Regions from separate parts of the Homo sapiens genome. Here region 1 is linked to region 2. Evidence: fine-mapped expression QTL. A gene starts in region 2. The other region holds a variant in brackets. All regions are shown on one strand. Distances are between the middles of the regions. Region 1 overlaps NIFK-AS1 (NIFK antisense RNA 1). Region 2 holds the start of NIFK (nucleolar protein interacting with the FHA domain of MKI67).

What was found. PIP is the estimated chance that this variant, and not a neighbour inherited with it, causes the effect.
Region 1: its variant is the best candidate, but not a certain one, in a credible set for the expression of NIFK in whole blood (INTERVAL, PIP 0.88).

The regions. Positions count from the first base shown.
Region 1 is chr2:121,713,675-121,719,051 of GRCh38, forward strand. All of the region lies in intron 3 of NIFK-AS1 (NIFK antisense RNA 1), which reads left to right. Among named protein-coding and RNA genes, the nearest start is that of NIFK, 21 kb to the right of the region's middle. The variant T/TA (reference allele first, on the strand shown) is at 2,117.
Region 2 is chr2:121,733,952-121,739,328 of GRCh38, forward strand. It overlaps NIFK (nucleolar protein interacting with the FHA domain of MKI67), which reads right to left and starts at 2,924. Exons shown (of 7, transcript NM_032390.5): 1 at 2,795-2,924; 2 at 1,662-1,799. The coding sequence starts at 2,899. RefSeq lists an enhancer at 2,811-2,860 and a silencer at 2,961-3,410.

The DNA.
Region 1 (5,377 bases), 20 kb before region 2:
AGTGGCATGATCTCAGCTCACTGCAGCTTTGACTCAAGTTATCCTCCTGCCTTACCCTCCCAAGTAGCTGGGACTACAGGCACGTGCCACCATGCCCAGCTAATTTTTTATTTTTTGTAAAGATGGGGTCTCTCTGTGTAGCCCAGGCTGGTCTCAGACTCCTGGGCACAAGTGATCCATCCACCTCCACCTCCCAAAATGCTGGGATTACAGGGGTGAGCCACCAGGCCCAGCCTACTTTCAACATTTATCCAGAATGTGAGCACTTTTCACTTTCCTTGCTATCACCAGGTCCAACCCGCCACTGACGCCCATCTGGATTACTGCAATAGCATCAACCTCCTGTGTGTCCTTACAGTCTATTCTCAGTGCTGCAGTATTGAGCATTGATCCCTTAAACCGTAAACCCACTGATGCTCCTGACTCACTCAGAGTCAAAGCCAATGGTTTACAGTGGCCTCCATGGTCCTGACGCATCTGTTTACTGTCCTTCTCTACTTCTCCCTTGGCAACTCTGTTCCAGCTACACTGGTGCCCTTGCTGTTTCTAAAATAACCACGCCTGTAGTCTCAGCTACTCAAGAGGCCAAGGCAGGAGGAATGCTTGAGCCCAGGAATTCGAGGCTGCGGTGAGCTATAATCATGCCACTGCACTCCCACCTGGATGACAGAGTGAGCCCCACCTCTAAAAAAGTAAAAATAATAAAATAACCCAGCCTGGTTGGCCTCTGGGCCTTTGCACTTGCTGTTCCCTCTGCCTTAAAAGCTTTTCCTCCAAGATCTCTGCATGGCTCCCCGAATTCCTCAAAAAGATCACTCAAATGTCATGTTCAGTATGAGGCCTTCCTGATCACCCACTGAAAATGGCAGTCCCACTTCCACCTCTAGAAGTCCCTAAGCCCATTTCTTGTTTTATTTTTCTCCACAGTACTTACCATTTGTGCCACATAATGTATTTCTTTACTTCTTTTTTTTTTTTTTTTTAGATGGAGTCTCCCTCTGTCAACCACACTGGAGTGCAATGGCATGATCTCTGCTCACTACAACCTCCGCCTCCCGGGCTCAAGCAATTCTCCTGCCTCAGCCTCCCAAGTAGATGGGATTACAGGCTCCCACCACCATGCCTGGCTAATTTTTTTGTATTTTTAGTACAGACAGGGTTTCACCATGTTGGCTAGGCTGGTCTCGAACTCCCGATATCCGGTGATCTGCCCGCCTCGACCTCCCAAAATGCTGGGATTACAAGTGTGAGCCACTGCACCCGACCTTCTTTACTTCTTTATCTGGTAATTGCTTGTCTCGCAATGCTGAATATAAGCCTCGTGGGGTCAGGAATTTTTGTTTTATTCACTGCTGATCCCCAGTGCTTGACACATGGTGGGCACTCACGAATGTTTTGAATGCATTCATTCATTAAACAAATGTGATGTGCCAGCCTTGTCCCCATCACTGGGGATACCGCCTGGGAAGCTGGGGAGGATGGTGGCATGTCCACTTGAGTAGCAAGCTGGTCAGGGGACTGGGGCAGAGGAGCAATGCCTGGGACAGAGATACCTTCTCAAGCCATGTGAATTTTCATACCATTTGCATGTATTACCTATTCAGATAATAAATTAAATGGAAAAAAAAAGTCACAGGAGAATAAGGAGCCGACTGAATAACATGCCTTTTTATGGCTGGTTCTACATTAACATCAAATCAGATAGCTGGCTAAGTACAAATTTGCAAGGTAGGGAAGTTATACGGTTTGCATTTACTAAACTACTGGGTGCAGTTTTTAAAATTATACCAGGCATGTCTTGGCAGCGGTTTTTGTTTTTTATAAAGTTGATTAGAAGTCCGGGCACGGTGGCTCATGCCTGTAATCCCAACACTTTGAGAGGCCAAGGCGGGCAAATCACCTGAGGTCGGGAGTTCGAGACTAGCGTGAACAACATGGAAAAACCCCGTCTCTACTAAAAATACAGAGTTAGCCACCTGTGGTGGCTCATGCCTGTAATCTCAGCTACTCGGGAGGCTGAGGCAGGAGAATTGCTTGAACAAGGGAGGCGGAAGTTGCAGTGAGCCGAGATCGCACCATTGCACTCCAGACCAGGCGACAGGAGCAAAACTTGGTC[T/TA]AAAAAAAAAAAAAAAAAAGTTAATTAGAGAAAAGCCACAATATTTATCATCTAGCCAAGTGTTAAAGGAGAAATAGAAGAAAAATTAACACAGTCCTTCAGAATAAAAAAGCTGCCAATGAGTATCCTGCATCACTGCCAAAAAACATCTCAACATTTTCTCTTTGGGGACAGATAATTAGGATATTTCCCCAGGTTCCTCTTGCAAGAGTCCTACTTTCCCCCAAACCAGCAAACTCCTCTTTTGAATAGCCAAATCATAGAACCTGTGAATGAAGCTACAGAGAACAACAGCATTACTTATGGCACATTTGCTGTGGAAACTACGTTTGGCAAGTATCAAATGTCTGAATTTCTTTTCCTGGACCTTGTAGGGTTGACAGCATTTATTTATAACAGGGGAGATTCCAAAATTGGCTCCTATCAGCAAAGAAAAGTAATGTCTGAGATACTGCTACAAGTTCATTTTCTTTTTGTTAATAGAAATTGAAGCAGAGCAGGCCACTGCAATAATTGGTAAGCTACTTAATTATAAAACAGATTGGTTACTGCAACAGGATAAATTTGTAGACAGGTATGTGAAACATTCTCTAATTGGATCAATGGGACGGGACATTAACTCCTGACCTCAGGTAAACCCTAACTAGCCAAATTGTTTTATTATTTTGTCTTTATTTGTTTTGGAGAGAAAAAGGACAGAAATAGATCATCTACATATAACTTGAAAAATATTTCCAAAATGTTGAGGTTTACTAGCTGAAGTAGAAAAATGCTCCAAATTCTAAGTCCAGTGTTTACTTCGTGTTTATAGTTCAGGCCTCATGAATAAGAAATAAAACCAAAATAGCCCAGTGACTGGAAAACAGGAAATATACTCCGAACACCAAGGGCTACAGATTGTGTTTACAGTGATTGTGGTACTAAAGCAAAGTTCTCTTGTGTAAAATTATTTATTTATTTATTTATTTATTTATGTATTTATGTATTTATTTATTTATTTTTGAGACGGAGTCTCACTCTGTTGACAGGTTGGAGTGCAATGGTGCAATCTCAGCTCACTGCAATCTCCAGCTCCCAGGTTCAAGTGATTCTCTTGCCTCAGCCTCCCAGCTGGGATTACAGGCACCTGACAGGACACCCAGCTAATTTTGTATTTTTAGTAGAGACGGGGTTTCACCATGTTGGCCAGGATGGTCTTAAACTCCTGACCTCAAGTGATCCATCCACCTCGGCCTCCCAAGTGTTGGGATTACAGGAGTGAGCCACTGCGCCCAGCCGAAACTTTCTTTTTACATAGAGCCATCATTTTAATACATACCTAAGAACATTATATGCACTGTATATAATTATATATAATTATTTGCTGGCCAGGGGCAGTGGCTCATGCCTGTAATCCTAGCAATTTGGGACACTGAGGCAGGAGGATCACTTGAGGCCAGGAATTCCAGACCAGCCTGGGCAACATACTGAGGACCCATTTCTAAAAAAAAAAAAAAGGTTGGGCTCGGTGGCTCACGCCCATAATCCCAGTACTTTGGGAGGTGGGCAGATCACCTGAGGTCAGTCAGGAGTTTGAGACCAGCCTGGTCAACATGGTGAAACCCCATTTCTACTAAAAATACAAAAAAATAGCCGGGCGTGGTGGCTACAGATGCCTGTAATCCCATCTACTTGGGAGGCTGAGGCAGGAGAATCACTTGAACCAGGGAGGCCGAGGTTGCAGTGAGCTGAGACCATGCCATTGCACTCCACCCTGGGTGACAAGAGCAAAACTCCGTCTCAAGAAAAAAAAAAAAATTAGCCGGGCCTCATGCAAGTTCCCATAGTTTCAGCTACTCAGGAGGCCAAGGTGGGAGGATCACCTTAGGCCAGGAGTTCGAGGCTGCAGTGAGCTATTATCATGCTACTGCACTCTAGCCAGGGCGACACAGTGAGATCCTGTCTCTAAAAACCAATACAAACCAAACCAAACCAAAACTGCTTTGGCCATGCACAGCGGCTCACGCCTATAATCCCAGCATTTTGGGAGGTCAAGGTGGGAGGACTGCTTGAGGCCAGGAATTGGAGACCAGCCTGGGCAATATAGTGAGACTCCATCTCTATATAAAATAAATAAATAAATAAATAATTTGCCCATAAATATTGTAAAATTAATCGAAGTTATATTTCTTCATCTTTATACACAAATTCATAAGGTAAATATTTTCATGGTTCATGTCATTGGAATGTTGTATTGCTGGTGACCCAAACCCATTTGGTAAATATATTTTCACCAATTGTCAATTATTGGAAAGATGTTTCCTAAGCACCAAATTGCTTAAGGGGCATTTGATAGTGGTAGTTTCTGTCCTGTAGTAGTGTAGACATTGGTGGGCTGAGGCCGGGCGCAGTGGCTCACACCTGTAATCCCAGCACTCTGGGAGGCCGAGGCAGGTGGATCACCTGAGGTCACGAGTTCAAGACCAGCCTGGCCAACATGGTGAAACCCCGTCTGTACTAAAAATACAAAATTAGCCAGGTGTCGTGTCGGGTGCTTGTAATCTCAGCTATTCAGGAGGCTGAGGCAGGAGAATCGCTTGAACCTGGGAGGCGGAAGCTGCAGTGAACCGAGATCGCACCAGTGCACTCCAGCCTGGGTAAAAGAGTGAGACTCCAGCCGTGCACAGTGGCTCATGCCTGTAATCACAGTACTTTGGGAGGCCGAGGCGGGTGGATCACCTGAGGTCAGGAGTTCAAGACCAGCCTGGCCAATGTGGTGAAGCCCCATCTCTACTAAAAAGGCAAAAATTGGCTGGGCGTGGTGGCAGGCACCTGTAATCCCAGCTACTCGGGAGGCTGAGGTAGGAGAGTTACTTGAGCCCAGGAGATGGAGGTTGCAGTGAGCCGAGATTGCGCTACTGCACTCCAGCCTGGGCAACAGAGCAAGACTCCATCTCAAAAAAAAAAAAGTTAACACTAGGGTATAAACCCCTTTAATAATTTTGGATTTTTGCCAATCTCTTTAAGTGCAATGAGTTAACTGTAGATTTTCTCTGCCTGCTTCAACCTTCTCAGAAGCTGGGACCTCAGGTTCATGCCACCGTGCCAGGCTGACTGTAAATTTCAAGTGCCTGGGATCTATTGCCACCTAGCGTTATATTGCTCTGAGTTATTTCAAGGCTGAGCATTTAAGAATAGAAATCTTGTTAGCCTTCTTCATTCCATGTGTGTCCCAGTGCCCCATTTCTGCTCCCAATTCATAAAGTCACTAGGTCCCTCTAC
Region 2 (5,377 bases):
CCTAGCAGCTTAATCTAAAGAGTTAAAAATATTAAAAAACCTAATGTTCGGGCTGGGCACAGTGGCTCGCTCATGCTTGTAATCCCAGTACCTTGGGAGGCCGAGGTGGGCGGATCATCTGAGGTCAGGAGTTTGAGACCAGCCTGGCCAAAACAGTGTTTAGTAGAAACACTGTTTCTACTAAAAATACAAAAATTAGCCAGGTGCAGTGGCCGGTACCTGTAATCCCAGCCACTCAGGAGGGTGAGGAAAGAGAATCACTTGAATCTGGGAGGCAGAGGTTGCAGTGAGCCGAGATCGCCCCCCAAAACAAAACCTAATGTTCAATAGGAGGGTGGATAAACTTTAGTAACCTAAGTAATGAGCAATGATGATAACAAAGGCAATAGAGTTACATGGATAAAGCTCAGATTATTGAATACAAAAATTCAGCTGAAGAATGATAGAGTAATATAATTTTAAAATAATACCATATGTACATTTATATATGTACACATATGTATTCTAGTACATATATATATAGTAAAAACTTATATATAGCAATGAAAACTGAATTTGTGGCCGGGCGCACTGGCTCACGCCTGTAATCTCAGCACTTTGGGAGGCCGAGGCGGGAGGATCACAAGGTCAGGAGTTCGAGACCAGCCTGGCCAACATAGTGAAACCCCGTCTCTAGTAAAACACACAAAAAATTAGCCAGGCATGGTGGCAGGCGCCTGTAATCCCAGCTACTTGGGAAGGTGACGCAAGGAGAATTGCTTGAACCCGGGAAGCGGAGGTTGCAGTGAGCTGAGATTGTACCACTGCACTCCAGCCCGGGCGACAGTGCAAGCCTCAGTCTCAAAAAAAAGAAAACTGAATTTGTGAATTTAATTCCCTAATTAAAGAAGTTGAAGAGCACTGGGAAGGGTACAAAAGGGACCTCAATTCTACCTACAATCTATCTTTACGACAACTAACAGATGATGGATGTGCACCCTATCCCCCACATGCTAAATCAAATAGGTGTCTATGGCTACAACCAATTAAAGTTTATGTGCGGGGAAAGAAAAGAAAGTGGGTCACTCCTCCACTATTGAAACAAGCTATGTAAAGCGTTTTCTCATTAGAAGGCAGGTATGACACAAATAGTAATTATACTTATATAGTGTTTATTGTGTACCAAGCAATCCTCTAAAGACTTTATATTTAACCTTTGACTAAATACTCCCAGGAAGTTTTACTTATATTTAACAGATCACAACACTGAAACATGGTAAGGTCATATCACTCTAACTAGTAAGGTGTAGAGCCTGACCCCAAACCTCAGCAGTCCAACTCCAGAGTCCTCACCTTTAACTATTCACTATATAAACCTTTGCTATTATAAGGATGCTTGTACCAAAGGCTAACACAAGAAAATGTATAAACCTGGGCCTCATACTAAAGCTCATTTACCAGGACTGTCAATTTAATGTAAGGATTTGGAGAAATGTAAAAAACAAACTTTTACAATAATACTGATTTTGCTCCTGTAGCTGTTTCAGATTCTAAACCTCCTCCACTCTCCTTTTTGGAATGAAATCTGATAAGCAATAATGTATGCGTGAACGTGCTCTTTAATGTCAAGGATAATACACATTTGAAAAACAAAACATTAAATCCAACTGCAAAAATCTTACCCTTTTACTTCTGGACAGCCTGAACCGTGTCACAGTGCCAAACTGGGAGAAATATGAAAAGATCTGGGTTTCGTCAAGTAGGTTAGGTAGGTGGCGCACATAGACTACTCCAGGAGTAAGTTGTTCTTGTTTTTTTCGCTAAAGACGTAAAGACCAGGTAAATTAAATATATAAATAAGAAAATCACATTGTAACAAAACCCCTAGCCCTCGGCCCAAGAACCTATTCTGCATTTCCACTTACCACAGTAGTAATTAAAGAACTGGCTGTTTAGTGTTTCTCTCCCCACAAAGGCCATGGTCAAGCAGTAGTCAACTATCTTTCCAGCCTGGCATCCCAGCACCCAGTATAATATTAGAGCTCAATAACTATGTCAATCAACGGATAAGCAAGGACATCTTTGAACAAGCCATTTTAGATCTTCTGCCCAGAGAACTCTACATAAACGTAGGCTTCAATTTGGTATGCATATTACTGTTTACTCGCACTTCATCGAAAAATTTTCGATACGCTTGTTAACTCTCACGGTACAGATTAGCCTTTCAACGTCTCAGTCATCATAGCCTTACCTCTGTAACAGGAACTTCTAAGTTTTCCTGTGTATTTTATGCTAAAAACCACAGAAAGTATAAGCGATGTCAGGGGCCCTAGTCAGCAAGTGGAACCTGGCAAATACTCTATTTTAATAACTCCCAGATCACCAACCCGGCATACAAACTTCCCGAATGTGTTAAGTCTGGGGCTCCCATTTTTGGGGGAAACGCGGAAGCGTGACAGCTCTAACCCGGAGATAACCTGTGGTATAGGAGCCTATTCCCTCCAGCTGGTTCTTTCTACTGCTTCTGTCACCCCAATACTTCCCCGTTACCCTCCACATGAAGGCTCCAGGGCCTCAGCGGCCAAACCCCTCCATCATTTACCGAACAGCGTAAACCCTTTCGTCTCGGAAACCGTGGCCTGCAAGCTTAAGAGGTCGGTCCCTGATTCGGTCGAATCCACTTGGGAGACCCTGGAGGTAATGAAGGCGAGCACGAAGGCAAGGGGCGCCCGGGCCGGAAACCGTGCAACCCCAGATACCCTCTAGACCCGGTCCATCGCCCCCGCTCGCAGCCTGGGCCAGGGTGCCTGCTCACCTGGGTTATGCGCTTGCGAACCTGCGCCACCTCCTTTTGAAACTCGACATCTTCCTGCGGATTAAGCGACAGGATTGGCCCAGCCGGGCCAGAAAAAGTCGCCATGCCAAAAGCCGCCGACGCTAACCACGCGGCGCTCCCGGAAACGTCGGGCTCCCAGCTCCCCCGAGGCGGAAGTAGAGGCAGGACAGGGGCGGGGCGAAGCGCTAAGGCGAGGCGAGGCGTGGCGAGGGGCGGGGAGGGCCATGAGTCGGGCGCGGGGTTGGAGCAGGAGTTGCCCGGAGAAGCGGGGGCGGGGCACGGGGTGTGGCGAGGCGCGGGGCGGGGCATAAATTGCGCCAGGGGCGAGGGCGGGGCACGAGGTCGTGCCGAGAGACTGGGAGAGGCGTGAGTCGCGCGGAGGCGCGACATGGGGCGTGACGAGGAGCGGAGGGCGGGGCGTGAGTAGCGCCGAGGCGCGGAGGCGGGGCGCAGGGGCGTGCCGAGGCGCGGCAGCGGGGTCTGGGGCTGGGGCTGGGCCGTGGGGAGCTCCCGCACCCTCGGCTGTCGGGGCGCCGGCTGGCTTCGCTTAAGAGTGCCTGAAACAATTACGTTCACGCCTACTTTCAAAAAAGGTCTAAAATAAATTCCAAAACAGTACCTGTGTCCTTGAGATGCTGCTCTCATTCCTCAATTTGCTTATTATTATTATTATTTTTTTTTGAGACAGAGTTTCGCTTTGGTTGCCCAGGCTGGAGTGCAATGGCGCAATCTCGGCTCACTGCAACTTCCAACTTCCGCCTCCCGGGTTCAAGCGATTCTCCTGCCTCAGTCTTCCGAGTAGCTGATTACAGGCGCCCGCCACCACTCCCAGCTTAATTTGTACGTTACCACTCCCAGCTTAATTTGTATGTTTAGTAGAAACGGGGTTTCACCATGTTGGCCAGGCTGGTCTCGAACTCCTGACCTCAGGTGATCCACCCGCCTCAGCCTCCCAAAGTACTGGGATAACAGGCGTGAGCCACCGCGCCCGGCCCTAATTTGGTTATTCTTTCACTCACTTGTGTGTGAGCTCTCCTGTGTGGCCCCGTCCGTCCGCGGCCCTTGGAGAACTTACAGCCTGAGGGCAGCATGGCTGCTTTAAGAGACCAAAGAGGCTTGTGGGGGAGAGGCACACTGGGTGGCGCCGGAGGGTCCCCCTTAGGAGGTGGCGTTAGCACCGAGGCCTGAAGGCTAAAGAGCGGGGTGTGGAGAACCGAGCGCCTGCCGTCCGCTGGACCGGACAGGCCTGCACAGTGTTCCTAGGTCTAGAAAGAAGGACGCGGCAGTGGGGTTGGAGCCCAGCACAGGAGGGAAGAGCTGCGAGGCGGCAGGCTGGAGCCCCATGACTGTGTGTCAAAGTATGAAACTGGGGTTTTGTAAATGCGAGGGGATGGGCGGGTTTAAAGCGAGGCTGTGGCTGTTTGCATCTTTCTTTTCTTTTTTTTTTTTTGAGACGGAGTCTCGTTCTGTCGTCCAGGCTGGAGTGCAGTGGCGCGATTTTGGCTCACTCACTGCAACCTCCGCCTCCTGGGTTCAAGCAATTCTCCTTCCTCAGCCTCCCGACTAGCTGGGACTACAGGTGCACACCACTACTCCCGGCTAATTTTTGTATTTTTAGTAGAAACGAGGTTTCGCCATTTTGGCCAGGCTGGTCGAGAACCCCTGACCTTAAGTGATCTACCCGCCTCGGCCTCCCAAAGTGCTGGGATTACAGGCGTGAGCCACCGCACCCGGCCTGTTTGTACCTTTCAAATACTATTATACTAGTGAGTAACTGAGTGGAGAGGAAGGGTGGGGAGTGGATTGCCGAGGAAGCAGGGAGGTGAGGCGAGAGCGACAGATCAAGCACAGCTGGTGTCAGGGGATAGCTGCGGCCGTGTTCTGGAAGCCGTGAAGGCGGCCCAGGGTGTGTGTGCCCGAAGAGTGGCCTGTGGGCCTGAGGTGGAGGCCCTGGGAGGGAGTGCCAAGCGAGGCCAGCCCACTTCCTCTGACAGACGTGCCTCCCACGCTCACAGTCTTCGCCTCCTTCACCCCTGCACCCTCCGGCTCAGCGCCACCGTCACCCCCAAGGGGGCATCCCTGACCCTGTAGCAAAGTCAGTTCTTCCAGTTAAGCGCTGTCTTCCCATTGTGTTTTCATGGGTAGGCTGGATTTTCGGGAGTGAGCGAGCAAGAGCAATTTGATTCTTTTTCAGGGCTGCCCCTTTCCATGGGCTTGTTCTTGCTCCCCCCAGGATGAAATCTTGGGGAGAGCTCCGCACTTGTGATTGCTCCTCAGATGTCAGTCAATAGAAGCATGTTCCACGCGTTCAAAATCTAATATCAAATGTCTCCTCTCCCCAGCTCAGTGTCTCTGGCAGAGAAATCCCCAAAGGGGAGCACAGTCCACATCGTCTTTATTCTTGGCTCCACTTTCTCTGTACACCCCAGTTTCTGTTTTTGGGCTTTCCAGGATTAGGACAGGGAAGAGAGGGAGGAGAAAGCAGAAAGGGGCTCCTTGCTGGCAGGTGCCACGTGGCCAGGGAGTTTTAGAGGCTGCAAATGCCAGGTTGCTGGCACCTTG